Homo sapiens: one gene and its partners. The protein of the gene in region 1 interacts with the protein of each later gene in a pairwise test. Each region holds a gene or a part of one and is shown in the gene's direction. Other genes may lie near its edges. The genes, in order: ANKRD10, PATZ1, FAM222B and ATG9A.

Region 1 (7,468 bases):
ATTTGTTGAATGCGCTAAATTATTTTAGCCAGAGGCTATCATGGTATTGGTGCTTGGCCACAAAGTCTTAACTTGCCATGTTAGTCACCCACTAGGTGCATTGCTCAGTTATGCTGTAGGCTTTTTTCCCCCATAGGGTTTTGAAAAGAGTAAAAAAATGTGGAGAATGGGGCCTCTATTGATTATTCAATGAGTATTCAGTGCTGGCTTGTGTAAAAGTGCACAGTTGTGCACACTATAGAAAATAGTCTTTGACTATGACGAGTTTACTATGGCTACACAAAGTTTGTGGGGTTTTTTGTTGTTGTTTTTTGTTTTTTTGAGACAGGGTCTTGCTCTGTTGCCCACGCTGGAGTGCAGCGGCGTGATCTCTGCTCACTGCAACCTCCACCTCCTAGGTTCAAGTGATTCTCCTGTCTCAGCCTTCTGAGTAGCTGGGATTCTAGGTATGCACTACCACACCCAGGTAATTTTTGTAATTTTGTATTTTTGAAACCCCAGTATGGGGTTTCGCCGTGTTGGCCAGGCTGGTCTTGAACCCCTGACCTCAGGTGATCCACCCGCCTTGGCCTCCCAAAGTGCTGGAATTACAGGCATGAGGCACTGCGCCTGGCATTACACAAAGTGGTGGTGGTGGTGTTGGTGTTTGAGATGGAGACTTGCTCTGTTGCCCAGGTTGGAGTGCAGTGGCGTGATCTCAGCCCTCTGCAACCTCCGCCTTCTGGGTTCAAGCAATTCTCCTGCCTCAGCCTCCCAAGTAGCTGGGATTACAGGTGCCCGCCACCACGCCCGGCTAATTTTTTTGTATTTTTAGTAGAGATGGGGTTTCACCATGTTGGCCAGGCTGGTTTCGAATTCCTGACCTCAAGTGATCCACCCGCCTTGGCCTCCCAAAGTGCTAGGATTACAGGCATGAGCCACTGCGCCCGGCCTACACAAAGTTTTTTAACCCACCAATCCCTTTAACGTTTTTGTTTAGAATAGTCTGTGCAACAAACAGTTTTGATAGAAGTCTTGGAACAGCGCAGTCCAATATTTTCTGATTTTGGCTTATTCAATTGTAGGGAAACAAATATTTAAATCTGTATAGTGTTAGTCGTCTTTTTGCATTTTTCTATTTCTATCTACCGTCTTTTTCATAAGGACAAGGGAATATGTTATCTTAAATGTCCTTTAAAATTTGCATGGCATTGGGAAAGAGTGACTTAATCTGTTAAAAAACTGGTAACAATGCCATTTGTCACCATTATAGAATTTCGATTATTCATGTAATATTGAATAGTGTACTGACATGTCTGCGTGTTTTCATTACCCCTCTTGTTTTCGAAGTTGGAGTGCTTAGTGCAGTTGGTGAGAGCGGGAGCCACACTCAACGTCTCCACCACACGGTACGCGCAGACGCCAGCCCACATTGCAGCCTTTGGGGGACATCCTCAGTGCCTGGTCTGGCTGATTCAAGCAGGAGCCAACATTAACAAACCGGTAAGAGTGCTGGTGATGGACTTGGTTTGCTTTTGCTTTTTCTTTTTGCAGTTATAATTATACACGGTATTGCTTTAAATCGAGGCCTTAATTAGAGTTTGATATCTTTACCTGAGGGCAGACTGGAATTTATGTTTCTTCAGTTGTTTGTGGAGGATAGTAGGCCCTTTCCATAGGAATGCTTTCTGTTCATAGAGTGCTTTCACCTGTTGTGTGATAAACTGATCCAGGGTGATGTGCCCAAGGTTATAGCTGGTAATTAAAGGAGCCTGGCCTTGAGCCCAGGTTTCCTGGCTTTCTACTCATAGCTGCCTTAGCCTCATTTCCACAGATAATTATGAAAACATTTTCATCCTGGGAAAAGCATGGCTATTAAGTCAGCTCCAAAGTGAGCTTCAGATACAAGTTGATGCCTTGATGCAGATAAGTGCTAAGTATCATTTACTAAGTGGGAAGAGTAAGTGACTTGAGGACTTGGTATTTAAACATACTGACAGGAACATAATCGTGCCAGATTTTTCTTCATGGTGTGTTTTCAGTATCATTTCACCTAAACCAAACACACACGCATTCAGATTGTTAGGTACTTAGTTGTGTGAGACAAGCAGCATCTAATAACCATTAGGTTGTCTGACTGGGAGCAGTCCCTAGACTCAGCGTCCTTTGCTGCAGATGGATTAGTCCTTAGACTAATTGATAATTTTCATCTCTTAAGACCTGGGCATGGGCTCTGGGAGCTGGTTTTTATGCCTTTTTTACTCCTATCTTTAAATGCTTTATAGTCATCAAGGTCTTGGATGCAAAGTCGTCTTTCTACTTTTCTTTCCCAAGATTCAGTCCTTCATGATAACCAGGCATAAGGTTGTTGCTAGTCCCTCTTCTAAAAACCCAGCTACCCACCTGAGCAGTAAGTAATTGAGAAAGAAGGTGTTTTTAGCCATGATTTAAAACAAGGATCAATGGGAAAGTGGGGTAAGTTATAAGGCAGTTTGTCCCCTTAAAAGATGTGAAGTAGAAAAGAAAATGGAAGGTGGCCAAGAGTTGAGGCCTGTTTGTTACTAAACTGAAATGTGGGATATGGGACAAGTTTTAAGGTTGTGCTGCCACTTCTCTCCTTCCATCTCCACACGTGTGCCTTTACATAATGTATATTTCTCTGCTGCTCTGTTGCTTGTCTTCATAAATTCGAGAGTTATGAATTACCTACTCAATACCCTTATGTGCTGGGCAGCGCCTTGTGTTTTTCCTTCTTCCCTACCCCTGTCCCCTGGTAGAAAGGGCAGTGTGGGCTTGATTCCTTGGGCAAGTCATTAACTTTGTGGCTCAATCTCTTTATCAGTAAAATACAGTTAATAATTCCATGAATGGCAGTAATTAATAGTATGGAATTTAAGTATATCATTTTTGTAGGTTAATTTTCATCAAATTGTTACATAGCATCTTATTTAGAGAGGACTAGAGAAATTGTCTAACACTGCTTTCCAGACCTTTTTAAATCAAGAAGCCCCCTTTTCAAAGTGTCTTATGGCAGTTCAGTATTTTCAGTAGATAAAGGGAGTGAGGCAGAAAGTGTGCTGCTGGGTCTCCCACCTTCCTCTCAGATGCCTCTAGATAACACCTCCTGGAAACTTCTACCGCACTCTGCTTCTTCCCAGGCAGGATCCTAAAATCTTTTTCTTTTCAGCCCTCCCTGTATTTGAAGTATCCGGGTAGACATTTCCAAGTCCTCACATGTGCCTAGTGCATATCATTTGGCATTGTAAAGCATCCTGGAATTTCTCCTTAGTGTATCTTAGGTAGTTGTGGTCTGCTGGCATGTGGAGTTTACATCCGAATCTGAGGCATCATCTCACTCTATTATGTAGTGGGTGAATTTCAACACCTCTTGTTATGGGCACCCAGTGACTCTAGAGGACACAATAGCCCTTTTGTTAGCTCCCCACCCCGCCTACCTGCTGACTCATCTCCAGGTAGACAGTTTCTCTCATTTCTCATATAAACTCAGGATGCCAAATCCAATCCAGGTTTTTCTCCTTTGTTGTGTCCATTTAATTTTTTGAACCTGTTGATGCAGTGTTTTAAGCCAATTTCTAGTCTGTTAATCTTTTGGCATGTTAGCTACTAACAGTTCTAAGTTCATTTTCCTCAAAGTTAATACCACAGACTTTTTTGGCAGTCTCTGAGGTGAGATTACCAAAGCTCGTATGCTGCCTAGAGGCCTGTGTTCTCGATTTCCCCAAGAGGAAATGAAGCCAGCTTTCCTGTGATTTGTTTTTAGTGAATCTATATTGACTAGCCTTGGTGCGTAATTAGCAAACCTTCTCTTTCATATGCCTCTTCTAGAATTTTGGCATTTGATGTTGTCTTTAATTTTTCATATCTAGATTGGAAATGAAATTTTTCTTTATGAAAACCCAGGGTGCCCAGCCTGTCTTGAGCATTCTGGCACTGCTCCCAGTTCCCTGTAGATCACTCAATTTGCTGTGGCTGCGATGTGACTGGGCTGAGCTGGAGGCCCGGGCACCTTCACCTGGCTCTTTAGTCTTACGTATCTTTTCTCTTGGCTACCTTCTCTCAGGATGTCCGGGCCTTTCTCTAGTGTTTGCTCTGCCCCTAAAGATTGTCCCTGCAGAGCTTGGTAGTTTTGCTTTTTCATTGTCATCTGTTAATATCCCACCGTGACAGACCCTTACTTTTTTGTCTTGTTCCAAGGATAGCTTTAAAGACCTTTTTTCCTTTTTAGCCTTTTTCTTTTTTGGCAAAACTTTATCTAAATCTCAGCTCCAGTTTTCCTGGGAATGTTTTTATGTAATTTTTATTTGTCTTTATTTTGTACTACTTCTCTCCCCTCCTCACCTCTCTTTTGGGGAGGATAGGGCTAGGTTTTCGCTTTTTAAAAAATCCGAGTTGACTGGATAGTTTATAGCCGCATGGTTTTCTGTGTTTCTGTCTTCAAAAATGGATTTTTCTGTTTAGAACTTTACATTGCTTTATAGTCTCTTTAGACCTTTGTTTAAATAAATGTGCACACTTTTCCCTCTACCAAGCACTCGAGCCTTTCATACTCTTATTTTTCTGTAAATTAATCTACCACTGTTTTTTTTAACTTTGGGTGGCCCTCACCTCATGTTTATTCCTGTGAGTATGAGTTGGTGAAGGAGCTTAGCTATTTAGTGAGTTTAGGAATGAACTGTTTTCTAAGTGACCCACAGTTGCTGCACTCCTTTTTATCTTGGTCTCTTAATTGTGTGGTAGTCTGCGCAGTTCAGCTTCCAGTGAGGTTGCAGTGTGAGTATTCAAGAAGTGTTGCTGATCGAGACCATCCTGGCTAAAACGGTGAAACCCCGTCTCTACTAAAAATACAAAAAATTAGCCGGGCGTAGTGGCGGGCGCCTGTAGTCCCAGCTACTTGGGAGGCTGAGGCAGGAGAATGGCGTGAACCCGGGAGGCGGAGCTTGCAGTGAGCCGAGATCCCGCCACTGCACTCCAGCCTGGGCGACAGAGCGAGACTCCGTCTCAAAAAAAAAAAAAAAAAAAAGAAGTGTTGCTGTGGAGCCCCCAGGATTTCCCAGTCTTCATTTTCCACCGGAAAGCACTTTCTTCTCTTGATTGCTGTGTCTGATTGCCTTTCCCCTCTCTTGCTTAGCTGATAGCCTATGAAGATGGTCTTTCAGGTTGTTTCATTCATGCAGTGTAGACCTGGGTTGACTGCTGATGTTCACAGTGGCTTTCCTGGGTCTGCTCACTTTTCTCTGCCTCTGTGTGTGCTTCACCTCCCCACCGCCGCCACCCCACCCCCTCTGCACTTTCTGAACCAGGAATTTCATTCTTATGAAGCTTGGTTTGCTTTACCTTTGTGTTCTTCTCCCTTTCCTCTAATAAATACTGAAAATAGATTGGGAATATTTAGTAAATATTCCCTCTAGTAAATACTGAAAAATAGATCAACTGTTGAACCTCAAGCCATCTTGTCTAAGTTGTGGTCCCACTTCAAGTTCAAAGCAGAAGATTCAAGATCGGCATTGATGATGTTGACTCGGGTTAGCATTGGGGTAGGCACAGAGGAAAGTGGGTAGCTGAGACCATATGTCAGCTATTATGTGCTATTTCTTGGCCTTGATGACCGTTTTAATGTGTGTGTGTGGTTGGTTGGTTGGCTTGTTTGTTTGGTTACTTATTCTGGGTTTATATAAAACACACGTGCTAAGATCCAGTGTAAAGTGATTTATAAATCACTGTTGAGAGCAATCACGCTGTCACTACTGGAGAGGCCCCAAGATATTTGGTCAACGACCAAATATCTTGGCCCCTCCTGGTTCGTTCTCATCCTCCATTCACGTATAGATTTCTTTGTGTTCTGCTTCAGATCTTGCTCAACATGTTTTACTTCAAAAAAGGATGAGAAGGTCTCTGATCTGTGTTAATGACATTACTTCCAAAATGTCAGAAGTTTTGTTCTAAGTATGTGTATATTTTGCTTTTTGTTGTTTCAGGATTGTGAGGGTGAAACTCCCATTCACAAGGCAGCTCGCTCTGGGAGCCTAGAATGCATCAGTGCCCTTGTGGCGAATGGGGCTCACGTCGAGTAAGTGTCTTTCGTTTATTCTTTCCAGCTAAAGATGTAGTTGAGGATGTTTTGTTTAAAGGCAGTACATAAGCAGGCAAAAGTCCTAAAACTTTGTTTTCAAAATTAGTAATGTAATTTTGCCTTTTAGAACAGTTGGTGTTAGTGAGGAAAATTGTGTGGATTAAATTGATCTCTAGAGGAGGGGGTTTAATTTCACAGCAGCCTCAATATTCTTGTCGAGAGAGTGTATTTGAACTGAAAGAACAGTTAACTAATTAGATTTGGAACTTGGCATCATTACTTTGCCACCATTACTTTGCCACTAACTAGTTGTGTCACTGTGGTCTTTAAACTTTTCTTTGCCTAATTTTGATTTCAAAACAAGAAGCTTGGATTGGATTAAAATATCTTTTCAGACCTCTCTGGCTCAGAAGGTTTCTGAAGAAAATTCACTTTTCTAGGTTTTGATTTCCACGTCTTAGCAGATGTGAGAAAGTTATGTTTTAAAGCCCATTGTAACTTAATGGTTGATAGTTCCTTGTAAAATATGACTATTTACATTAAAGACCTCAAGCTTGCTGTAAGCTTCTGGTACTGGTGGCATTATTTTTAAATATCTTTCGTTTTAGCCCAGCTTACATCAGTTAGCTTATTTATGCTTTGATAGGACAATCTTAATGTTTACGTGTAGTCTTTTAGAAATGAGATCTTATATGCAAATCATTAGCCATGGCATTATACATTTATTTTAGTTGTTACATTTATTTGTATTAACTTTTTCTTAAAAATTTATATTATAAAAATTTTTCTTCTGCAGTTCACAGCATTAACAAAATGGATGCGGTTTTCACCCTTAAATGTTGAGTGTAAGCTATAGAGCTATAATAACCAAAATAACCAATATCAGCTTTTTTGTTTTACCTTAAGTGTTATGAATAATTCATGAAAATTAATTATAAACCACATTATTCTAATCAGAAATGTGAACATTTAGACTTCGGAGGAAATAAAACCCACAAAACTAGTTTAACCCTTTGGTTTCCATTTCATTGCTTTGACTCTGTATTATATTGAAAATAGATCCTAGACAGCAAAACCATACAGGCTAATGCACGACGTGTGTAGGTACCGGAGGCTGTCAATCATCTGTGAATAGCTTAGCTTCTGTTTTGTTAAGTTTATTGGCAAGATTCGCCATTAGTTTGGGCTGTGATCCTTATATAGTGATCTGGTATTATAAACATGGCCTCTGTTTACTGTTACATTGCAGGGACTCTCGCGACTTCATGTATAGTTGTGACTAAAGGTAATGTAGAAACAATTGATAGTATGTTTTATATACTAGTAGAACATTGAGATGATTCTCAGTGGATTGCTTTAAAGCAAAGTTATTTGTGCATTTTTCTTAGCTGTAGTTAG
Region 2 (7,468 bases), on another chromosome or scaffold:
ATGTCGTCAGAATTGCCACTATCATTTAATGGGCTGCTTTTTCAATTCAAACTCGTGAAAATATTACGAATAATTATCTCTGCACTTTGTCCTGCCTTTCCTTTCCATTTCCCTGGCCAAGACTAATGTCACTTTTGAATAAAATGAACAAATATAATTCTTTGTATAAAACTAGGGGAAACCCAGGGATACAGAACAGGAAGGCTGGTTTATATGCCAATAACTCATCTGTAAATTCATGTAAATGTAATTCTGTGCATTATAGCTAATGCACCTAAAGTCAATTCTTAATGTCTAAGGATGAGCAAATGTGTAACTCTTCATTGTGTAGAGGGGTATAGAGCTTAGCTTGCCATGTCCTGGGTACATTTCCAGTAGTCATTTAGTTAGTACCAGTGATTCCCACTCAAGTGTCCCGTAAGGAGGTACCATGGGAAATAAGAGCAGCCTCTTGGCATTCTGGGTAGGGAGCCTGAGCCAAACTCTAAAGCTGTCTTTATAAAGGGAGGTCATGTGATGGCCAGAAATTGCCTTTGCTTCATGGTGCACTTGGTGGGGAGTCAGGTGTGGGGTGCTGGGTTTCACATCATCCCATTTTCTTTTCTGCCTTCAGACCTGCAATGCTTCTTTTGCCACCCGAGACCGTCTGCGCTCCCACCTGGCCTGTCATGAAGACAAGGTGCCCTGCCAGGTGTGTGGGAAGTACTTGCGGGCAGCATACATGGCAGACCACCTGAAGAAGCACAGCGAGGGGCCCAGCAACTTCTGCAGTATCTGTAACCGAGGTAATCTGCCCACTGTTTCCTCACTTCCAGAGGATGGGCCTGAGCGTGTATGGGAGGCCTAGGGGTGTCTCAATCACCCTGCCTCAGACTCCACTCTTTGCACAGCCACCCCCTACTTCCCACTGAATGATAAACACCTTCATCACCCAACTAGCTATTTGCTACCTCTTCCTTCCCAAGAAGCTTGGGGTGCTTAGAATGGGAAGTCCCAGGAGACCAGCAGGTCAAAACAGAAGGAGAGAGGTTCTTCCCAAGCTTGGGCCCATAACTCTCACCTGCTACTCAGATGGCAGGATGGATGCATTTTGCAGACACCACTGAACCACTGAGGTTGGTGGGGGAGTTAGTAGGTCCCAAAGTGAGAGAAAAAGAGGTTGGTCCGGCTTGAGAGCTTTTGCTGGTTGATTCACTGGCATATGAAATTCAGCAGCCAGGGAAGGAGGTTGAGTCTGGAGATAAACAAGGAGCAGACACTTTGTAGCACAAGTAGTCAGAAGAGAGCCCAAACTCAGGTAGATTGTGGCCTTGAGAGAGGAAAGTGGAAGGTGCTCTGAGCAGGGCAGCATGCTTGAGGACAAGGTGGGCCTAAGTAGTGTCTAACTCTGTGGCAGTGGTGTTGTGTTGGGTGAAGTCAAGCCTGTCCCCAAGGTTCTGCCGGGTCTAGTTGGCTGTTGGAAGTGCTAGATGTTTGTGTTTTGCAAGCACAGCATCAGTGGAGGCTTGCACTGTGTCTGTGCTAAAGGAGGTTGGAGCAGCTATCTGTGAACGTGAGGATGCTTCTGCATGGTGTGCTTTGCTTTGGCCAGTGGGGAGCACTGGGATGTCCTTATCTCCTGGGGCATTCTTGCTTGTCCCAATGCTTCCGAAAGCCTGCTTAGTGGGTGCAGCACTGAACCAGGAGTCAAGAGACCCAGGGTTTAGTCCCAGCCTCTCACTAGGTGGCCTCGAGTTCTCCCATTCCCTCTCTAAGCTTGAGTTTCTTCATCTCTCAAATGGGGTTAAGAATAGCCCCCTTTCCCACCTCACAGGGCTGTTATGAGGATCCCAGGAGACAAGGTAGGTGAAAGGAGCCGCACACTTGGGAGACTCTATCCTTGCACTTTGTAACAATGTTGGGAAAGACATGCTTGTTGACACTCTGGGTTGGACCAGGCACAACACTCCTGCAGGCCTTGGCGGAATCGTTGGGTGCCTGTGCTGTGTTCATGTGCCGAGGTCCACGGTGGAAGGAGATTGCTGAGTAGCTGGGTGTTCTTGGTGTCCTGGAACTGGGTCCCTCCTTGCAGCTTCATACCTGGGGTTTGTACCACCAGGACACCTGCTGTGAAAGCAGGGAAGTAGTAGTGAAGGTCTCTTAAGCTGTCTGTTCTGTTTTCTGACATGTCATTAGAGCCCATTGCTGACAGGAGCTTCCTCCAGGTTGCAAGCGGTGGGCTTGCGCATGCAGGGAGAGTTATCAGGCTGTGGCTGACTGTCTTGACTGGGGCTTCCCCAGCCCTAGAAATAATGTCGTTTCTTGTCTTGCTTCATCCTAACCTGGCTTCCTGACAGCTCCCCCGGATAACTCAAAACCTGCTGTAACAAGCTGTTAGCAGGCATTTTGTCAAGTTTTCAATATGGAAGTTCCCAGTCTGAGAACTGGGGTCAGAGACCAGAGGTTGAAAACTGCTGAGTGGAGAAGGGTGCTCATGATAAAACTCAGAAAGCCCAGACCAGATGGTGGAGTAGGGCAGAAACTGGACAGGAGACCCAGGGCTACAGCCCTTGAAGCCCAGCTCAGGAGGAGAGAAAAACTGAGAGCAGCAGGGACAGTGGGAAAGTTGGCCCAGTAAGGAAGCAGCTGATGTGGCAAAGCCAACAACTATTGTACATCAGGATTTATTTTCCAAGGGCTAGTAAAGAGAACTTGGGCAACAGCCATAAGCTACATGACCGGAATGGAGAATCCAGAAGAGTAAACCAGAGTCTACTTTTTCTCAGAAAAGCCAAGACTGGGTCTGGATCACAGGCCAAACATCTCTGGGTTCCAGAGCCAGAGCGGGAAGTCCCTTTCCTGCAAGAAGACTAAAGAAGGTGCTGGTCCAACCCATGCTGGGTACTCAGAAAGAAGAGAAAACAATTGCAGTTTTTATCAGAAGAGAAGGAGCAGGATTCTACTCCTGGACTCATTCCTTGGGCAGAAATAGGAAGAGACAAAAAAAAAAAAAAAAAAAAAGGAAGAGGATAAAGTTCTTTCTGAGCACCAAAAACATTGAGACATTGGAATCAAAATGCAGAGAGCTCTGTGTCCTCCTTTGCCCTGCTGCCACCAAGCCTGTACCTACAGGAGGGGTTGCACGAATAAACGAATGTTCTTATCTCTGCATGTGTTCAAACAAAGGCTGAATGTCAGAACAGTTAAGATTGAATCAGGTGAACTTCCAGGTGCCCTCAGATCCTTCAATCCCAACAATTCTTAAATAGTTGACTTAAGTATCTACCTATAGATCTGTCTTTTTCAATTTTTGCCACAAAAATGACTCCTGGCTGTGAAGAATGGCAAAGAGGAAAGGCAGCCTGACTCCTGCAGCCTCACACGTGAGTCAGATGCAAGTTGAAGAGACAGATGACTCTGGCTTTGTCATACAGACATATCAGGATGTGTATGATACTATTTGTACAGGAAGATCATTTGCAGTGGAGGGAGTATTATGGCTAGAAAAGCTTGTTCCCACATTTTTGAGTTGAGGAAATCAGTTGAGTTGAACAGTGGAAAAGGGAGAAGGCCCTGGCTGATCACCATGATTTTCTTCCTTTAAAGTTTCTGTAGCAGGATCTTTGTATATATGCCTATGTGCTGGTATGGTGAAGAGGAACAGATTATCAGGAATCCGCCTTTGACAGAGACATTTGAATGCAAACATCATTGCTTGAAAGGTAGAGGAAGCCTTCTCCCCAGTCAGAGGTAAGCACACAAGTGGATGGATGCAGGGAACCTGCTGTTCCCCTGGACTCACATCAAGCTATGTAGGCCCACTCCAACACAGTGCAGTTGGGAATGGCCCCTTCAGGGTTTGGACAAGGAGAAAGCAGTCCCCAACCCCTGCATTGATGTGGAACCTGCCAAAGGATGATTTGCTTCTGGAGTGCCAAGTGCAGGCACACCAGGCAAGAAAATGCAACTGAGGAGCAGTGGCCTTTTGCTAATAAGACCATCGTCTCTGGAGTGAAAGGGCCGGTGGCTTGTTGGTTGTAGTGGCAGTCATATGTGTGCTCAGCATCTCCATTGCGTGGATGGCTGGATCAAGCTGCCTCTTTGGATCTTGGTTAATCAGTGGTGAATGGGTGGGTAAGTTTAGAATTCCGGCTAAATATGTCTGGCTTCAAAGACGTATTCTGCTCAGAAGCTCAGCTTCTGTTTCATCCTAACACTTGGCTGCTGAGTTGCTCTGTGTTTAAATTCTAGGCTTTAAGTGGCAGCTGTGGATCCACTCCTACCACCCCGCCATGTGGTTTTGCTATAGATAGTACAGTCTGCAGCTGGGGTAAAGTCAAGAGGACTCAGCCACGTGTTTCTAAGACTGTTTTTCAGGAAAACTCAGCAAGACAGTTTCGCTGTTGTTGCCCAGACTGGAGTGCAATGGCGCGATCTCAGCTCATCACAACCTCCACCTCCTTGGTTCAAGCGATTCTCCTTCCTCAGCCTCCCTAGTTAGCTGGGATTACAGGCATGCACCACCACGCCCGGCTAATTTTGTATTTTTAGTAGAGACAGGGTTTCTCCATGTTGGTCAGGCTGGTCCGGAACTCCCAACCTCAGGTGATCTGCCTGCCTCGGCCTCCCAAAGTGCATGAGCCACTGCGCCCAGCCAAACTCAGCAAGTTTTTATTGAGCATCTGCTGTGTTCTCTTGGTATAGCTCTCCCAGTAAGGAGTAAACATAATAATTCCTGGTGCTCTCCCGCTCCTTTCTGTCCCCTTTTGATTGCAGTGGACCTGCTCTGGTTCATCACAGGGAGAGAGCTTCATGCTATTTTAGAGACCCCACAAGGGATTAAAAAACTAAGGAAAGGCCGGGCACGGTGGCTCACGCCTGTAATCCCAGCACTTTGGGAGGCCGAGGCGGGTGGATCGCGAAGTCAGGAGATCCGAGACCATCCTGGCTAACATGGTGAAACCCCGTCTCTACTAAAAATACAAAAAAAATTAGCCAGGTATGGTGGCGGGCGCCTGTAGTCCCAGCTACCAGGGAGGCTGAGGCAGGAGAATGGCATGAACCCTGGAGGCGGAGCTTGCAGTGAGCCGAGATGGTGCCACTGCACTCCAGCCTGAGCGAGAGTGAGACTCTGTCTCAAAAAAAAAAAAAAAGGAAAAAATTACCTTCTAAAGTGGTATCATCATATTATCAGAAAGTTCTAATATCTTGTACTGATTGGTGGGAGCCAATGTCTCCTGGTTCTGCTTTGTTTTAGGGGACTCTACAGTACCACCCCAAGGGGCAGGGCTAACAGCCTCTTTCCCATTAGCCTTGTCTCCTCACTCCTGACTACAGCCTCCCTCTTAGGGATGTCTACATGGGACCCTCTTACACCAATCTATACCCATGATCAGCCTCAGGCAGACCACTGCGGTCATAGCACAGGACAACTTGCTCTACCAGGCAGGGCAGGACACCAGCACCTGGTCTAGACAGATCTTTGAAGTAGCTGTATTGGGAAAGGAAGGAAAATTGGCCCAATCCCACATTTCCCTTCAGAACCACTAACTGCTGCTGTCAGAGGAGAACTTGTTAAATAAAGTTCCCACAGGCCAGCCCTGTTTTTCCAGCAGCTTCCATTCTAACATACCATTATGGTCGAAAAATACATGAGTGTAAATGGTAATAATGAAACCTATTGTAAAAGTCCACTGGATATTTCTAGGGCTCAGGGCTAAGACACAGGAACCAATTAACCCATTTATGCTGGAGGTTACAAACTTTTTTGTGAAAAATCAGACTTTAATGATGATCTTGAGCAGTAGGATACAAATAATTCCTAAAAGGTTAGCGTCCCAATAATGGAACATGAGGCATAAGTGGGTTAAAGCATCTGCCCAGTAGCTAAGGGCCAAGTTCTGGTGGCACATGATCCTGGGGTTGGAGTCCAGGCTCTGCCACTCAGTAGCTGTACGTGTGACCAGGTTACTTAACCTCACCAAGCCTCTTTTTTTTTTGAGACGGAGTCTCGCTCTGTTGCCCAGGCTGGAGCGCAGTGGCATGATCTCAGCTTACAGGTGCCTGCTACCACGCCCAGCTAATTTTTTATATTTTTAGTAGAGACGGGGTTTCACTGTGTTAGCCAGGATGGTCTCGATCTCCTGACCTCGTGATCTGCCCACCTCAGCCTCCCTAACCTCACAAAGCCTCTTATTTCTTTATCTGTAAAATGGGTATAATAGTAATCTGTAGCACAAAGGGTGTTGGGCAAATTCTATAGAATAGTGCATGCGGTGTGCTGGGCCCTGGTGTGCCATCAGCACTTCCTAAAGGTGAACCTTTATTACAGTTCCAGCAGCATTCAAAATACCATGCCAATTCAGACTTTTTTAAAACAAATCTCATGCAGACATTACACAGTACTCTTCAGCCTCTGACCCTTTACCCTTTAGCAGTGGATCTCACTGTTATCCTGTGACTGTGTAATTTTGAAAGTGAATGGAAACACCTGATGATGAGTCAACCAGATCTGAAGTGGATTAAAGGGACACTGTCAGGGTGCTGGCACCCTAAGTGGGCCTTATACTAAAAAGCTTCAGTTCCTGCTAAAAGCACCTTCTGATCCTTGACTACAGTGGGGTTTGATGGCATACCTCCTTCCTGTGAAACCCAAGTCAAAATCCTTTTATCGGCCTGCCTGATTCTGTATCCTTGGACGCATGGCTGCTGTGGAAGTTGGCCCAAGATGTGTTCTTCCCAGCCTGAGATATCTCGTGGATCAGACTGACCGAAGCATCTGGGAGGTGGGCTGGAACAGTCCCAAGAAGGCCGGATTGTCCTCCCCCAAAATAAAGACAGAGATCATCCGTGTTTCTTCTCCTGTACGCGAACCTGGTGGATGCTCCAAAATCGAACCAAAACACTACCATGAATAAGAGATGACTGCACTCCTCTGACACAACTTCCTATTTTTGTCTTTGTTCTTCAAAAGGTCTAAACAGTTACTAAATCCTGTTATGCTGAAGGTGGGGAAGTTAGAAAAATAGAACATCTCCTGACAGGTAGAAGACGGGATCCTTGGAGGCGTTCCTTTGGGATTTCATTTTACCTCCATCTCGTTTGTTGTCCAGTTTCCTTTTACGAGGATTAAGCAGGCATCCTGCTGGCTAGAATCCTGTGGCTTCCCTGGAGCCTCAAATTCTTGTCTAACCACATTTCTAGTCATGGTTCCTGCAGGAGACATCCACTCAAACCACCTGTTACTGAGGCACCAAGCAACCCTAGAGGCAGTTGGCCTCTGGCCCTAGCAGGAGCAGGATCTCAGGCCATCCCACCAGGCAGCCAGCCTCAGCCCCTCACCGCAGCCTTGCAGAGTGGGCTCTGCAGAGAAGCCGATTTGTGGACAGTGCCACCCTCCATCCTGAGTCACATGGCTCATGTGGTTGCAGCCATTTTTGAGCCAGGAGGGGGCCCCTTCTAGGTGCAGCTGACCTGGGAATGCTAGCCA
Region 3 (7,468 bases), on another chromosome or scaffold:
AAGCAATTCTTTGCCTCAGCCTCCCGAGTAGCTGGGATTACAGGCACCTGCCACCATGCCCGGCTAATTTTTTGTATTTTTTTAGTAGAGACGGGGTTTCTCCATCTTGGCCAGGCTGGTCTTGAACTCCTGACCTCGTGATCCACCCACCTCGGCCTCCCAAAGTGCTGGGATTACAGGCGTGAGCCACCATGCCCAGCTGAGAAAACTTTTTTTTTTTTTTTTTTTTTTGAGATGGAGTCTCGCTCTGTCACCCAGGCTGGAGTGCAGTGGTGCAATCTTTGCTCACTGCAACCTCCACCTGCCGGGTTCAAGCAATTCTCCTGCCTCAGCCTCCCAAGTAGCTGGGACTACAAGTGCGCTCCACCATCCCAGGCTAATTTTTTGTATTTTTAGTAGAGACAGGGTTTCACCATGCTGGGCAGGCTGGTCTTGAACTCCTGACCTCATGATCCACCCGCCTCGGCCTCCCAAAGTGCCAGGATTACAGGCATGAGCCACTGCGCCCAGCAGAAAACTTTTTTTAAGAGTTAGGCTTAAGTCTGGTATGTGAGGTAGATGGTGCTGTATTCCCAGAATGATACCCCTTTTTTGTTCAATATACTGTACTCATCTTTGGGGTTCTTCCTTAACAAAGCTACTGTAGCCTTGTGGCCACCCTCCCTACCCTCATTTCACTTTATTTCTGAATCCTTTGACAGCCCTCTTCACCATTTCAGCATCAGTGGAGGCAGGACAAAGAAAACTAATCAATGTGGATAAGTGTCCCCTTCCATACTCCTGAATGAGGTCAAGCTTCCCCCTTGCCTCTGCTAAAAAAAACCTCAGAGTTGGTACTAACTTGGAACAAAGGGACTCTTCTACTCATCAAGGTACTATACGACTTCTACTTGGATTTCAAGGAGAGAAGCCCACCAGCATGGAGGTGGGCTAGGTTTAAAGCACTGTGCTAGGAGTATTATATGAGATTATGACCAATAAGACACATAGGTACAGTGGTTGACCAAGGCAGCTTCTGTTGGAATTCTGATGTCTTGAGTTTAGGGACTTGCTCTCAATCAGTGATCCCAGACTTTTTTGCCAGTATTTGAAAGCACAGACCTGTTTTGGGAGGTGGGGATGCCTGGCTCTTTTTGCCCAGATCTGCTTGTGAGCATGGGCCCAAATCTCTCTGCCCCTCCTGACTTGAGCTTTCTTTTCCTGCTTCCCAGAGCAGGAGTTGCTAACCAGCATTATCACCAAACAAAGAGAGCTGTACCCATTTTCCTTCTAATATGCTCATTAGCCTACCTTTGTTCTAGGTGATGCCCAGTGATGTGACTTTGAATAGAGTCTCCTTTGGGCCAAGGCCACCTGAGGCCACAAGCTGGGCATTCAGTCAGATTAGTCGTTGGCCTATCCTCCTGCCTTTTGCAAGAGGAGGAAGTAAGGAGAGAGTCGGCTAGCTGAGCCTGGGCTTCCTGCCAAGCCACTTCTGCTTTGGGCAGTCTGTGTACTCATTCAGCAAGCATTTATTAGGCACCTTTTGTGTATACTCAGGGGAGACCCTCCCTCAGAGACGAGAGAGTAGAGCAGAGCCCCCTTGCAGGAGGTTGGCATCCTTAAAGAGCCCTTGTTCTCAGAACCTTTTCCTTTTTGACTGGAAGCCGGACATCCGCTGAGCCCCCTGATGGGAGGCAACAGGAGATGGGAACAAAGAGACTGTTAACATTAATGAGGCACACCGAGTGGGCATTTCCGCAGTCTCCAAAGGCAGGCAGGTTTTTCCTCTTTCTTTTTGGAAAATGACAGCTGACATGGACCAAATACAGACTATTTTTGGCTCTCAGGACTGAAAGGACTGAAAGATGCTCTGAATCCTTTCTTCTCAATTCCCTCCCTGCTGCCCTGTCATTATTATCTTCCTTCTCAAGCAAATAAATAAAGCCTTTGATCCTCATCCAGTCGGGCATAGAGTAAACTGTAAACAAAAGTGAACTTGTGACATGGGGAAGGGGAGAGATGTTGGCAGCTTATTCCTCTGCTCCTGAAAGGAAGCATTCTGTCTACTGTTCAGGGTGCCCACCCAGTGGGCAAAGCCCCCCAGCTGCCAAGATGCAAGGGAAAGCTGATCCCTCATTGGTCCCTGCAGACTGAAGAGTCGTAGCTCTGGGTACCCTCTAGACTGAAGGGCCACCATGGCCCTGACAAGGAGCTTTGCTTAGAACCTACCCCCAAGCCACATGGGCTGGTAGAGTTCCAGACCCTGCATTTCTCTCTTTTTTTTTTTTCTTTTTCTGAGACAGAGTCTTGCTCTGTCGCCCAGGTTGGAGTGCAGTGGTGCGATGTCGGCTCACTGCAACCTCCGCCTCCTGGGTTCAAGCAATTAATCCTCCTGCCTCAGCCTCCCAAGTAGCTGGGATTACAGGTGCTTGCCATCACGCCTGGCTAACTTTTTGTATTTTTAGTAGAGACGGGGTTTCGCCATGTTGCCCAGGCTGGTCTTGAACTCCTGACCTCAGATGATCCACCCACCTTGGCCTCCCAAAATGCTGGGATTTACAAGTGTGAGCCACCGTGCCCAGCGACCCTGAATTTCTGTGTAGGGGGAGAACTCTCGGTTACCTCTCTGAGAATTGGCCAAATTCTGGTTCTGCAAGATATGAGACTTTGAAAGATGCTTTGCTGTTCTGATCTCTACTTACCTCATTTATAAAATGTAAATGATGATAGTGCCTGCTTCTACAGCAATAGTGAGGATTCATTGAGATGGCCTGTCATCTGGCAGAAGGCCTGGCCCACTATAAGCACTTACTGAACATTAGCAGTGCTTGTTAATGTGAAGACTGAAGCTGGGTCTCGAATGAAGGCTACAGATGACAATCTAGTCATTTCCCCACCCCACCCCAGGCCCTCAAAAGGGGAATCTGGAAGGGCTGTTTGCCTTGGCACTGATGAGCTCCCTCTCCCTCTTTGCTCTCCTTCCCATTCTCTCTCTCTAGGGGACACTACACAGAAAATGAGAACTGCTCACTATCCTACCCCAGCCGAATTGGATGCGTATGCTAAGAAGGTCGCAAACAACCCACTGACTATAAAAATCTTCCCCAACAGTGTGAAGGTTCCCCAGCGGAAACACGTTCGTCGTACTGTGAACGGCCTCGACACATCAGCCCAGCGCTACAGCCCCTACCCGACACAGGCTGCCACCAAGGCAGGCCTGCTTGCCATTGTCAAAGTGCCAGCCAAAAGCATACTCAAGGACTTTGACGGCACCCGAGCCCGGTTGCTCCCTGAGGCCATCATGAACCCCCCAGTGGCACCCTATGCTACTGTGGCACCCAGCACTTTAGCCCACCCCCAGGCCCAGGCTCTGGCCCGCCAGCAGGCCCTGCAGCATGCACAGACCCTGGCCCATGCCCCTCCCCAGACGCTGCAGCACCCTCAGGGTATCCCGCCACCCCAGGCACTGTCCCACCCTCAGAGCCTCCAGCAGCCTCAGGGCCTGGGCCACCCTCAGCCCATGGCCCAAACCCAGGGCTTGGTCCACCCTCAGGCCCTGGCTCACCAGGGTCTCCAGCACCCCCACAATCCCTTGCTGCATGGAGGCCGGAAGATGCCAGACTCAGATGCCCCCCCGAATGTGACCGTGTCTACCTCAACTATCCCCCTTTCAATGGCGGCCACTCTGCAGCACAGCCAGCCTCCGGACCTGAGTAGCATCGTGCACCAGATCAACCAGTTTTGCCAGACGAGGGCAGGCATCAGCACTACCTCAGTGTGTGAGGGCCAGATCGCCAACCCCAGCCCCATTAGTCGCAGTCTGCTCATCAATGCAAGCACCCGGGTGTCGACCCACAGCGTCCCCACACCAATGCCTTCATGTGTGGTCAATCCCATGGAGCACACCCACGCGGCCACCGCCGCGTTGCCTGCTGCAGGTCCTGTCAACCTGCCCACAGGCATCTCTCGCGTCCCCACTGGCTACCCTAGCGACCTCAAGCCAGTCACCTGGAACCAGCACCAGCTGGCCCACCTACAGCAGATGTGCAGCGAGGCTAGTGGGACGCCAGCCCCTGGCCTGACAGGCAAGCATGCGGCAGGACGCGAGTTGGCAGGGCCTGGCTTTGTGGGCAAGGCCCCTGCCTACCCGCAGGAACTCTGCCTGGCGCAGTCCTTCCATCTGAAGCCACCCCTGGAAAAGCCGACCCCATCCCCACCAGTCAACGGCATGGCAGCCCCATTGGCCTACCCCAATGGTCACTACTTCCAACCCCTGTGGAACAACATTCTGCCCACTCCCAATAGCGACAGCTCGGGGTCTCAGGACCTTGCCATGCCGTTCCACGGTGGGCAGCCCACAGGTGCACCCCTCGACTGTGCGGCAGCTCCCGGGGCCCACTACCGAGCAGGGACCGGGGGCGGTCCAGTGGCAAGCCAGAACAGCTTGATGCAAACAGTGGATTACCTAAGTGGGGATTTCCAACAGGCCTGCTTCCGAGAACAGAGCCTGGCCATGCTGAGCAAGGCCCACCGAGCCCCTGGCAACCGAGCCCCCGATCCCACAGAGAGTCGAAGTCTTCATATTCAGCACCCAGGGTATAGATAGGTAGCCCTGCTGCCCTCCACGTGCAACACATCATACATCACCCTCCTAGGTTTAGTCTTTTAAGTAACTGGATAGTTTCAAAGTTTCACTGCTCCAGTGTGATCATTCTTAGATGTCTAAGAAAGGGAATTTGGTGGGATCTAAGTGGGGACAGAAGGGGTCCTCTCGTCCTCCCCTCCAGCAACTTTTGGTTTTATGTTAGAACCTAACCCTAAGCCCAGGCTTTTCTCTCCACTGACTGCCTGTCAGCTAGTCTCTCCACCTTGGCCATTTCCAGCCAGCTCCCACCCATCTTTTCTTGAATCTCTTCCTGTTTCCCTTAGGACGACTGAGGTGTGGGCTGACGGAATGCCCTAGTTGAGGTAGTATAGGTGCTCAGGCCCCTAATCCAGACCTCTACCTGTTGCTACCCCCCTTCCCCTCCCTCCAGGACTAAGAAGCAAGATTTCCCAGGTGCTCTGAAAGCTAATTACTTACTCATCGAAGGATCTCAAATCAAAGCTGACCCAGTCTTCATATCCTTCAAGTTCCTTTCCATTCCTCAAGGCTTTGTTTTGTGTCTATATTGATCCCACAGCCACTGCACTTGCCCTTGCCACACTTGATCTCAAGGGCATCTTGGAAGTATTTGACCATTTCTTGAGATATGGGGGGAAAAAGTCTTTGTATTGGCATCTTGGTTCCAGACTCCCCTTTCCAAACCTAGAAAAATACAGTGACCTTTGAGCATACCCAAGATCCCTTTCTCACTGTTGCCTGTCCCCTAACTCACCTCCCCACAGCCCCTATCCTTTCCCCCTCAACAAAAACAAAATCTACCTTACTTGAGGAATTAGGTAGGTAAGGAATGATCACATTGGAGTTTGGGATTAAAAACACCAAAAAAAAAAAAATGCATTTGGTTCTCTCTACACTGGCTAAGAATATTGCTCTACACTGTAAGTTTTAAACGTTACGTTTCTGTATGAATGTAGTGTGGGTTTGAGTAGCATTGTGTGTGAGTGGCCCCACAGGTACATTCACCCTCTAGTGCAGCCCCTCAGTTTAATGAAGGAAAAAAAAACAAACACAAAGCCTTAAGCTCTTTGAGTACTTCCTTTACCAAATGAGCATGGTTCTAACACCTGGAGCTGGGCCTACATTGGAAACAAGCCCCTCCTGCCCTCTGTCCATTCTTAGAGCATACCTTCATCCACTCCATGCTCAGCACGTCTCATCCCAAGCGACAATTAGTTGGCTAGAAACACTTTTCTGTAATTTTAAACTTAGACTGTTTTGTTACAAATTTTTGCACCATTCTGTTAAAGATGCAGAATTGGGCTTTTTTATTTTTTACAGATGAAATAAGCCCTTACCTTTCCTCTTGTCTCTGGGGAATGTCAGCTGATGGTTCTTATTTAAGGTTTTGCATTTTGTTCACTATCCACTACTGTTCGTTAGCCAGAAATTCTCTAGTGATCTGAAGCAATGTGACTGAAGACCAGTTTTAAGTTATGTGTTGGCAAGTTGCCTTATATTTAAAAGGAAAAAGAAAAAAAAAAAAGCCTGATTGTGTTATGCCAAATGATAGCAACATGAAGTCCTAATTTATTGTTCCCAATTGTTTTCCTGCCGTCTGTGAACACTGGTACCTCCCTGTCCTGATCCCCCAGGAGCACCTGTAGCTTCTGACTCAATGCCTTCTCCGAAGGTGTTGGCCGCCATCTCACCCAGGGCCCTCTTCCAGTTCCTGCTTTTCTGAGTCAGATTTAAAGAGCACCACTGTCTTCCCCCTACCCCTTGCTTGATCTCCAAAGCAGATATTCTTGCTGTATTTTTTTTTCCTCCCCAATACCTCTCCCTGAAAGGTGAGCTGCTATTTTAGGAAACTGGACCAGACACCAACTTGGGGGCTTTAAGTCAAACAACCTCAAACCCATCTCTTCCTGTGTAGGGGTGCAAGCCTCTGAAGCTCTCACTCCCACCCTTAGTCTGCATGGAAAATGTACTGTGATCCCCCTGCCCCCAACTGCCCTCGCCTTTGGTGTGAGATGTTCCTTCTTTCGGAGTTCAGCCTGAGTCCCTCTCCCCTCTGCCAGCCAACCCCCAGCCAGCAATAAGGGTCCAAGCCAGGGCCTCCTCTCCACACTCCCTGTCTCCATCCTACACTACCCTAGGGAATACCTGGATTCCCCATTCTATCCACATACTGTAGCATTCATTCTCCATCTCTCTCACCTCACCTGTGGTGGTTTATGGGTGTGATGGGGTTTTTAAGATTATTATAAACCAGTAAAAATAAGAAAACCTCGCTTTCTGACCTTGTTCTATTCGTTTAGTGCTGTGAATGTTTGAGGTAACTTTTTCTTAACAGTTTCTAACATACCTCACTTCATAGGAGTAATTCCTAATTTTTAAAAGGGGTACCCCTGTAATATGCATCCCACCCAGAAGCCGTCTCCAAATCCATTATTTAAGGCCAGGTGCTATGGTGATTGTAGACAGTTCTTCAATGAAACCCTGGACACAGGGTACCCGGCTGACAGGCCCTCTCCCTGGGCAGGGCTGCTGTGGGCTTACTGTGAAGTTTGAGGATAAGTGTGGTTTGCTGTCCCTCACTGGAGGCCCAAAAGGTCCTGCCACTTGCATTCCAAGGGCCATAAGTCATTGAGAAATGGCGATCTGGTTGTTTTGTTTTGTTTGAGGCGAAGTCTTGCTCTGTCGCCCAGGCTGGAGTCCAGTGGCACGATCTCGGCTCACTGCAACCTCCACTTCCCAGGTTCAAAGGATTCTCCTGTCTCAGCCTCCTGAGTAGCTGGGATTACAGGTGCCTGCCACCACGCTCAGCTAATTTTTTGTATTATTAGTAGAGATGGGGTTTCACCATGTTGGCCAGGCTGG
Region 4 (7,468 bases), on another chromosome or scaffold:
TATTCCTAATGTACCACCATGGACAGACAAAAGTTTAGACAGGTTAAGTAACTTGGTAAAGTCACACAGCTAGAAAGTCACAGAGCCAGGACTTAAGCTTGAGTGTGTTGACACCAAAGTCTGTGCTCTTACCTGCTTTCTTTACTGACTACTTTTTCTTAACAATTACACGTTTATAATCTGCACCAGAAGAATGGCTTCACATGTATGCTCATCGGGGAGATCTTTGAGCTCATGTAAGTATAAGAAGGGACAGATGATGTGGTGAAAGAATACATCTTAGTCTTTCCTCTCCTTGCACTCACACTTGGCCCAACCTGCCAGTACAACTCAGTCCTAGGCTAAAACTCCGTAAACCTTTGTAGTTCAGGGACTGGGTGTGGCACCAAAACTTACAGCTTCACCTTTCTTTTTTTTTGAGATGGAGTGAGTCTCACTCTGTCGCCCAGGCAGGAGTGCAGTGGTCTTGGCTCGGTGCAACCTCTGCCTCCCAGGTTCAAGTGATTCTCCTGCCTCAGCCTCCTTAGTAGCTGGGACTACAGGCATGTGCCACCATGCCCGGCTAATTTTTTTTGTATTTTTAGTAGAGATGGGATTTCACCAAGTTGGCCAGGCTGGTCTCGAACTCCTGACCTCGGGTTATCTGCCCGCCTCAACCTCCCGAAGTGCCGGGATTATAGGCATGAGCCACCACGCCCGGCCAAGCTTTCTTACAAGAAAAGCTTTCCAAGCCTTATCTCTTCCATGAAAAGAACCCAAGCCTTGGTTGGGCACGGCAGCTCACACCTGTAATCCCAGCACTTTAGGAGGCTCTAAAAATACAAAAATTAGCTGGGTGTGGTGGCACACGCCTGTAATCCCAGCTACTTGGGAGGCTGAGGCACAAGAATCGCTTCAACCTGGGAGGTGGAGGTTGCAGTGAGCCGAGATTGTGCCGCTGCACTCCAGCCTGGCTGACAGAGTGAGACTCTCTCAAAAAAAAAAAGAATGCAGGCCTTGACCTTGATCATCTCAACGCTCCAATGGAACGTACATTGTTCAGTCAGGAGGTCTCAGAGATGCCAGCCACAGAGAAAAGCCTCTGTTCTGCCTTGCCTGTTCCATGGCCTGCTCCTAGGCAGAGAGCCTCCTGGGAGAGAGAAGCCATATAGCATTGCCGAAGGGGAAGGGGTTAGGAAGCCCTCCCTCAATCAGAAAACTCCCCCAAGGGCTTTTAACTACAACCTCAAAAGGAAATCAGAGACTGGAGATCAGAGACCCACAGGATGAAACCTTCGAGAGTCCAGTAGTGGTGGCTGAGGTTACCATGAGGTGAGGAAAGTAGGCTGCAGCTGTGGCAGCTGAGGCTAAGAGCAAAGAGTGGGCCTGAGACAGTCCTGTGGGGCTGAGGAGCAGAGAGGGCCCACTGGGAGTTCTCCAGGCCCTTCCAGTTCCCAGTCTTGTTCTGCCACCTCCAGACTCTCCTCTTCCCACTGGGTTTCACTGGAGCCTCTCTGGCTCTCAGACTGCACCCCTTCTTCCCAACTCCCCAGGCAGTTCCTCTTTGTGGTTGCCTTCACTACCTTCCTGGTCAGCTGCGTGGACTATGACATCCTATTTGCCAACAAGATGGTGAACCACAGTCTTCACCCTACTGAACCCGTCAAGGTCACTCTGCCAGACGCCTTTTTGCCTGCTCAAGTCTGTAGTGCCAGGTAAGGGCTGCAAGTCAAGAGGACACCATAGCCTTGAGTTCTGCTAGCAGGTGGGTAATAGAGTGGAGTCTGAGGCAGCAACTCATACTCCAGAACTGACTCAGGCTTGGTCTAGCAAAAATACTTCAGGATAGCAGCGTCTCTGCCAAGACTCCTTCCTCGAGGGCCACCTCTCCTCCCCTTCTTTTTCCCCACCAGGATTCAGGAAAATGGCTCCCTTATCACCATCCTGGTCATTGCTGGTGTCTTCTGGATCCACCGGCTTATCAAGTTCATCTATAACATTTGCTGCTACTGGGAGATCCACTCCTTCTACCTGCACGCTCTGCGCATCCCTATGGTAAGACTGGGAAGTTGGGCAGTTAGCCCATAGTCTAAGACGTATTGGGAGGTGTGGGTGTATTCCTGGGCATCAGTTATCCTTATCTGTCATTGACAAATCAGGAACTGTCTCTTAAGCTCACAACCCCTGAATCTCACTTCTAATATAGGGCAAAGGGGTCGAGGCAACAACCCCACCTTCCGTACCTTGTCTCTTCCCCACCCCACCCCGCAGTCTGCCCTTCCGTATTGCACGTGGCAAGAAGTGCAGGCCCGGATCGTGCAGACGCAGAAGGAGCACCAGATCTGCATCCACAAACGTGAGCTGACAGAACTGGACATCTACCACCGCATCCTCCGTTTCCAGAACTACATGGTGGCACTGGTTAACAAATCCCTCCTGCCTCTGCGCTTCCGCCTGCCTGGCCTCGGGGAAGCTGTCTTCTTCACCCGTGGTCTCAAGTACAACTTTGAGCTGATCCTCTTCTGGGGACCTGGCTCTCTGTTTCTCAATGAATGGAGCCTCAAGGCCGAGTACAAACGTGGGGGGCAACGGCTAGAGCTGGCCCAGCGCCTCAGCAACCGCATCCTGTGGATTGGCATCGCTAACTTCCTGCTGTGCCCCCTCATCCTCATATGGCAAATCCTCTATGCCTTCTTCAGCTATGCTGAGGTGCTGAAGCGGGAGCCGGGGGCCCTGGGAGCACGCTGCTGGTCACTCTATGGCCGCTGCTACCTCCGCCACTTCAACGAGCTGGAGCACGAGCTGCAGTCCCGCCTCAACCGTGGCTACAAGCCCGCCTCCAAGTACATGAATTGCTTCTTGTCACCTCTTTTGACACTGCTGGCCAAGAATGGAGCCTTCTTCGCTGGCTCCATCCTGGCTGTGCTTATTGCCCTCACCATTTATGACGAAGATGTGTTGGCTGTGGAACATGTGCTGACCACCGTCACACTCCTGGGGGTCACCGTGACCGTGTGCAGGTGGGCCAGGGCCACAGGCGGGAGCAAGCCGGCTAGCATTCCTGGGAAAGGCATACATCTCACCATGATCCTGATCCCACTAGGTCCTTTATCCCGGACCAGCACATGGTGTTCTGCCCTGAGCAGCTGCTCCGCGTGATCCTCGCTCACATCCACTACATGCCTGACCACTGGCAGGGTAATGCCCACCGCTCGCAGACCCGGGACGAGTTTGCCCAGCTCTTCCAGTACAAGGCAGTGAGTGGAGTTGGAGTTAGGGCCTGCTAGAGACTGGCTGGTAGCTCGGTGGTGAGGGCTGGGCTCCCTCCTGCTCGCTTGTGACCTTGGTCCCGCCCTTTTAGGTGTTCATTTTGGAAGAGTTGCTGAGCCCCATTGTCACACCCCTCATCCTCATCTTCTGCCTGCGCCCACGGGCCCTGGAGATTATAGACTTCTTCCGAAACTTCACCGTGGAGGTCGTTGGTGTGGGAGATACCTGCTCCTTTGCTCAGATGGATGTTCGCCAGCATGGTCATCCCCAGGTACTGGGAGAGGAGGGAGCCAGGTGGCCTGGGATGATGCTGGAACATACAGTGTCTTTGGGAAAACCGCAAAAAGACACCTCTCCTGAGTCACACAAAGGCAGTCCTATACCAGGGGCACACTGCTTGGGAGCCTGGGCTGGATTTCAGCCCTAATTCGCACCCTTGGCCAAGCTCCCTTAAGAAAGGCACAACACGGCCAGGCGCGGTGGCTCACGTCTGTAATCCCAGCACTTTGGGAGGCCAAGGCGGGTGGATCACGAGGTCAGGAGATCGAGACCATCCTGGCTAACACGGTGAAACCCCTTCTCTACTAAAAATACAAAAAAATTAGCCAGGCGTGGTAGCGGGCGCCTGTAGTCCCAGCTACTCGGGAGGCTGAGGCAGGAGAATGGCGTGAACCTGGGAGGCGGAGCTTGCAGTGAGCCGAGATCACGCCACTGCAATCCAGCCTGGGCGACAGAGCGAGACTCCATCTCAAAAAAAAAAAAAAAAAAGGCACAACACAAGTAACTGGCTCAGCATGCAGTGCAGCCCCTCCTGGGTCTGGGGGGGCACCAGTGCCCTGGGAAAGATTGACAGTATACTGTGGTCTCCGTTCTCCAAGGGTAAGGCCTCCCCACTAACAGGAAAGGTGCAGGAAGGCTCCTGGAAGAGAACAGCCCTGCTTACTCTGCTCTTCCTTGTGCAGTGGCTATCTGCTGGGCAGACAGAGGCCTCAGTGTACCAGCAAGCTGAGGATGGAAAGACAGAGTTGTCACTCATGCACTTTGCCATCACCAACCCTGGCTGGCAGCCACCACGTGAGAGCACAGCCTTCCTAGGCTTCCTCAAGGAGCAGGTTCAGCGGGATGGAGCAGCTGCTAGCCTCGCCCAAGGGGGTCTGCTCCCTGAAAATGCCCTCTTTACGTCTATCCAGTCCTTACAATCTGAGTCTGAGGTGTGTTCCTGGTGACTGGGAGATGATGGGCAGAGTGGACTTCAGGAGCTGGGAGTTGAGGGACCGGGCATGGGGTGGAAGGCTTCCTGCTGTCTCTTCAGTATGTGCCACTGGGGCCTGAGATACAGAATACTAGGGGACCCCAGAGACCTTTCTCTTGCCTCAAGAATTCTACCTACCCGTTTCGTTCATAGCCCCTGAGCCTTATCGCAAATGTGGTAGCTGGCTCATCCTGCCGGGGCCCTCCACTGCCCAGAGACCTGCAGGGCTCCAGGCACAGGGCTGAAGTCGCCTCTGCCCTGCGCTCCTTCTCCCCGCTGCAACCCGGGCAGGCGCCCACAGGCCGGGCTCACAGCACCATGACAGGCTCTGGGTGAGTAAATCGGGGCCAAGATGGGAGGGCACGGCAGCCCTCAGCAGCTTGTGTGGGTCTCAGAGAAGTTCACAGCTGCTGTCTGTCTCTGTTGGGAGAGACAGGGTGGATGCCAGGACAGCCAGCTCCGGGAGCAGCGTGTGGGAAGGACAGCTGCAGAGCCTGGTGCTGTCAGAATATGCATCCACAGAGATGAGCCTGCATGCCCTCTATATGCACCAGGTGAGTGCACAGCTAAAAAAGAGAGTAGAGGGTTTAGATGCGGAGAAGCAAGACCGGGGTTCCAAACCCTTCTCTGCCATTTACTTGTTCTGCCACCTCCACTCCCATATCTACCTTCTTAATATCCTTTTTAGCTAAGCCTGCTCTCATCCAGGGCCTTCACACACTCGCAGTTTCCCCTGCCTAGAATCCAGTTCCCTGGGATATCCAGATGGCCTCCTCCTTCTTCTTGGGTCTCTGCAGCTGCCGTTTCCCTGAGACTTTCTCTGATCACTCTCAGTAAAAGGCTCCCTTGCCCACCCTCCTGAATCTTCCTGTCTTAGTTTTCTCCATAGCATTTAGCACCATGTGACATATCATGTTTTTTCCTTATTTATTTGCTTATTCCATATCTCCTCTACCAGTATATAAGCCTCACAAGGGCTGGCATTTCTGTCTGTTTTGTTCACTGCTATCTCCCCACACCTAAAAGAGTGCCTGGCACTTAGACCGTCAGTCAGTTTGTTCCTGAATCAAATGAATAGGTAAAATGAGGGCCATTACAACACAGGCTTCTTCCGGGGATCTGCTGTGAATGTAACCTGTAAAGATCAGAGGTATATTACACACTATTAACATAATAGGTGCTCTGAGGCAAGGATTCTCAGGGAAGGGGTAAAGCGGGAACTGACTGATACCAGGTTGGAGGGCAGCTGTTTCAGATGGACATCCGTCTGTCCCCCACTAACGAGCCCCCCATTTCTCCAGCTCCACAAGCAGCAGGCCCAGGCTGAACCTGAGCGGCATGTATGGCACCGCCGGGAGAGTGATGAGAGTGGAGAAAGCGCCCCTGATGAAGGGGGAGAGGGCGCCCGGGCCCCCCAGTCTATCCCTCGCTCTGCTAGCTATCCCTGTGCAGCACCCCGGCCTGGAGCTCCTGAGACCACTGCCCTGCATGGGGGCTTCCAGAGGCGCTACGGTGGCATCACAGGTATCCAGTGGGGGTATAGGAGGAAACAGAGGCTGCAGGGAAGGGTGGTTCTTCCAGGGCCTCTCAAGGGGAGGAAAGAGGTCTGAGAGAACAGGCCCAAAGACTCACCCCCCAAGCAGCCCCCCAGCCCTGTTCCTCATTCTTGTGTTCCTTCTATGAGTATGCTTACTCTTACTTGTCTCTCCAGATCCTGGCACAGTGCCCAGGGTTCCCTCTCATTTCTCTCGGCTGCCTCTTGGAGGGTGGGCAGAAGATGGGCAGTCGGCATCAAGGCACCCTGAGCCCGTGCCCGAAGAGGGCTCGGAGGATGAGCTACCCCCTCAGGTGCACAAGGTAAGGGCCCCGGGGCCTAGGAAAAACTGCCAGAAATAGTAACTTCCAGGGTGAGGTAACAGCTTTTCAGGGGAAGGAAGATATGCCCCACCCCCACACAGAGATACTGTACCCTCCCTTCCAAAACACACTACCCCTTCTTTTCTCAACTGCTCTGCAGGGCTTGGTTTTTCCTTACCTTACCTCCCCAGGAATCAACCTTTCCTGTCCCTTTACCTCTAGGTTTCTATGGGGCTAGCAGGTATCAACCAGAAGCTGAAGACTATCTCCATTACCAACCCTTTCTCCCCACAGGTATAGACAAGGCTGAGCAGGGTTCCTGTGGCCCAGGATGGAGGCCACCGCTGCCCTGCCATCCCGTCTGCCTGCCATGGGACGGCTCCTCTGAGTGTTCCCTGGCCCCACGTGTGTGGTGTTTGTGTGTCTGTGCCTGGCCAAGGGAGGTGCCAACACTGGGCTTGCCACAGCCCCAGGAGAGGAATTTGGGGCCTAGGAACCGAGGGCACACGGGACTCTAGCCTCATCCCCAGGACCCCCTTGGCTCAGAGTGTGGTGCTAGAAACTGGCCCCCAGCCCAGCCCCAGTACTGCCACCTTTACACCTACCCCTGCAAGTCCCCAGAGGGCTGCCCACGATAGAAGCTGCCAAGCAGGGAGAACCTGTGCCAACTGTGGAGTGGGGAGGTTGGGCCTGGACCCTCAACCCCTGCAACCTTCCCTAGCCCCCTCAATAGATGAGCAGGTCAGGCTGTGGCCCTTACCTCACCCGCAGTTCTCGCCCAGTGCTGCAGCCGGCTCACCTCTCTCCGCTTCTTGCACATCACTGGCCTGTGTGTGCTGCTTGCTCCTGTTCTGTTCGCTTGCTCCCGTTCCGTTCGGCTTTTGCTTTGCGTTAGGGTGAAGACCCTAGCGTCCAGCTCCCCTCAACGCTATATTTTGACACTAAAAAAGAAGGTTTCTAAATTGTAGGAGCAGGATGGAAATACTTTGCTGCCCTTGCCATCTTTTAGGATGGGCCCCCAGGAGACTGAGGTCTTCCTGGGCCCTCATTGCTGCTTATCGTACCCCCCATCACCTGCACATGGGACAGACCGGGCTGGAGGGTGACCTT

What was found.
Region 2: the proteins of ANKRD10 (region 1) and PATZ1 interact in binary tests that used the Homo sapiens proteins (3 or more experiments, as listed by UniProt).
Region 3: the proteins of ANKRD10 (region 1) and FAM222B interact in binary tests that used the Homo sapiens proteins (3 or more experiments, as listed by UniProt).
Region 4: the proteins of ANKRD10 (region 1) and ATG9A interact in binary tests that used the Homo sapiens proteins (3 or more experiments, as listed by UniProt).

The regions. Positions count from the first base shown.
Region 1 is NC_000013.11:110,904,632-110,912,099, reverse strand, and holds part of ANKRD10 (ankyrin repeat domain-containing protein 10), read left to right. Parts: intron 1-1,329; coding exon 1,330-1,482; intron 1,483-5,975; coding exon 5,976-6,067; intron 6,068-7,468.
Region 2 is NC_000022.11:31,329,009-31,336,476, reverse strand, and holds part of PATZ1 (POZ-, AT hook-, and zinc finger-containing protein 1 isoform long C), read left to right. Parts: intron 1-613; coding exon 614-785; intron 786-1,060; exon of another isoform or gene 1,061-1,128; intron 1,129-7,468. UniProt on the Homo sapiens protein: Transcriptional regulator that plays a role in many biological processes such as embryogenesis, senescence, T-cell development or neurogenesis. Interacts with the TP53 protein to control genes that are important in proliferation and in the DNA-damage response.
Region 3 is NC_000017.11:28,755,390-28,762,857, reverse strand, and holds the end of FAM222B (protein FAM222B), read left to right. Parts: intron 1-701; exon of another isoform or gene 702-784; coding exon of another isoform or gene 785-872; intron 873-2,981; coding exon 2,982-4,588; 3' UTR 4,589-6,878; downstream 6,879-7,468.
Region 4 is NC_000002.12:219,219,637-219,227,104, reverse strand, and holds part of ATG9A (autophagy-related protein 9A), read left to right. Parts: intron 1-171; coding exon 172-236; intron 237-1,532; coding exon 1,533-1,694; intron 1,695-1,892; coding exon 1,893-2,034; intron 2,035-2,250; coding exon 2,251-2,999; intron 3,000-3,082; coding exon 3,083-3,236; intron 3,237-3,340; coding exon 3,341-3,520; intron 3,521-4,211; coding exon 4,212-4,460; intron 4,461-4,654; coding exon 4,655-4,833; intron 4,834-4,937; coding exon 4,938-5,055; intron 5,056-5,802; coding exon 5,803-6,025; intron 6,026-6,212; coding exon 6,213-6,358; intron 6,359-6,652; coding exon 6,653-6,658; 3' UTR 6,659-7,468. UniProt on the Homo sapiens protein: Phospholipid scramblase involved in autophagy by mediating autophagosomal membrane expansion. Cycles between the preautophagosomal structure/phagophore assembly site (PAS) and the cytoplasmic vesicle pool and supplies membrane for the growing autophagosome.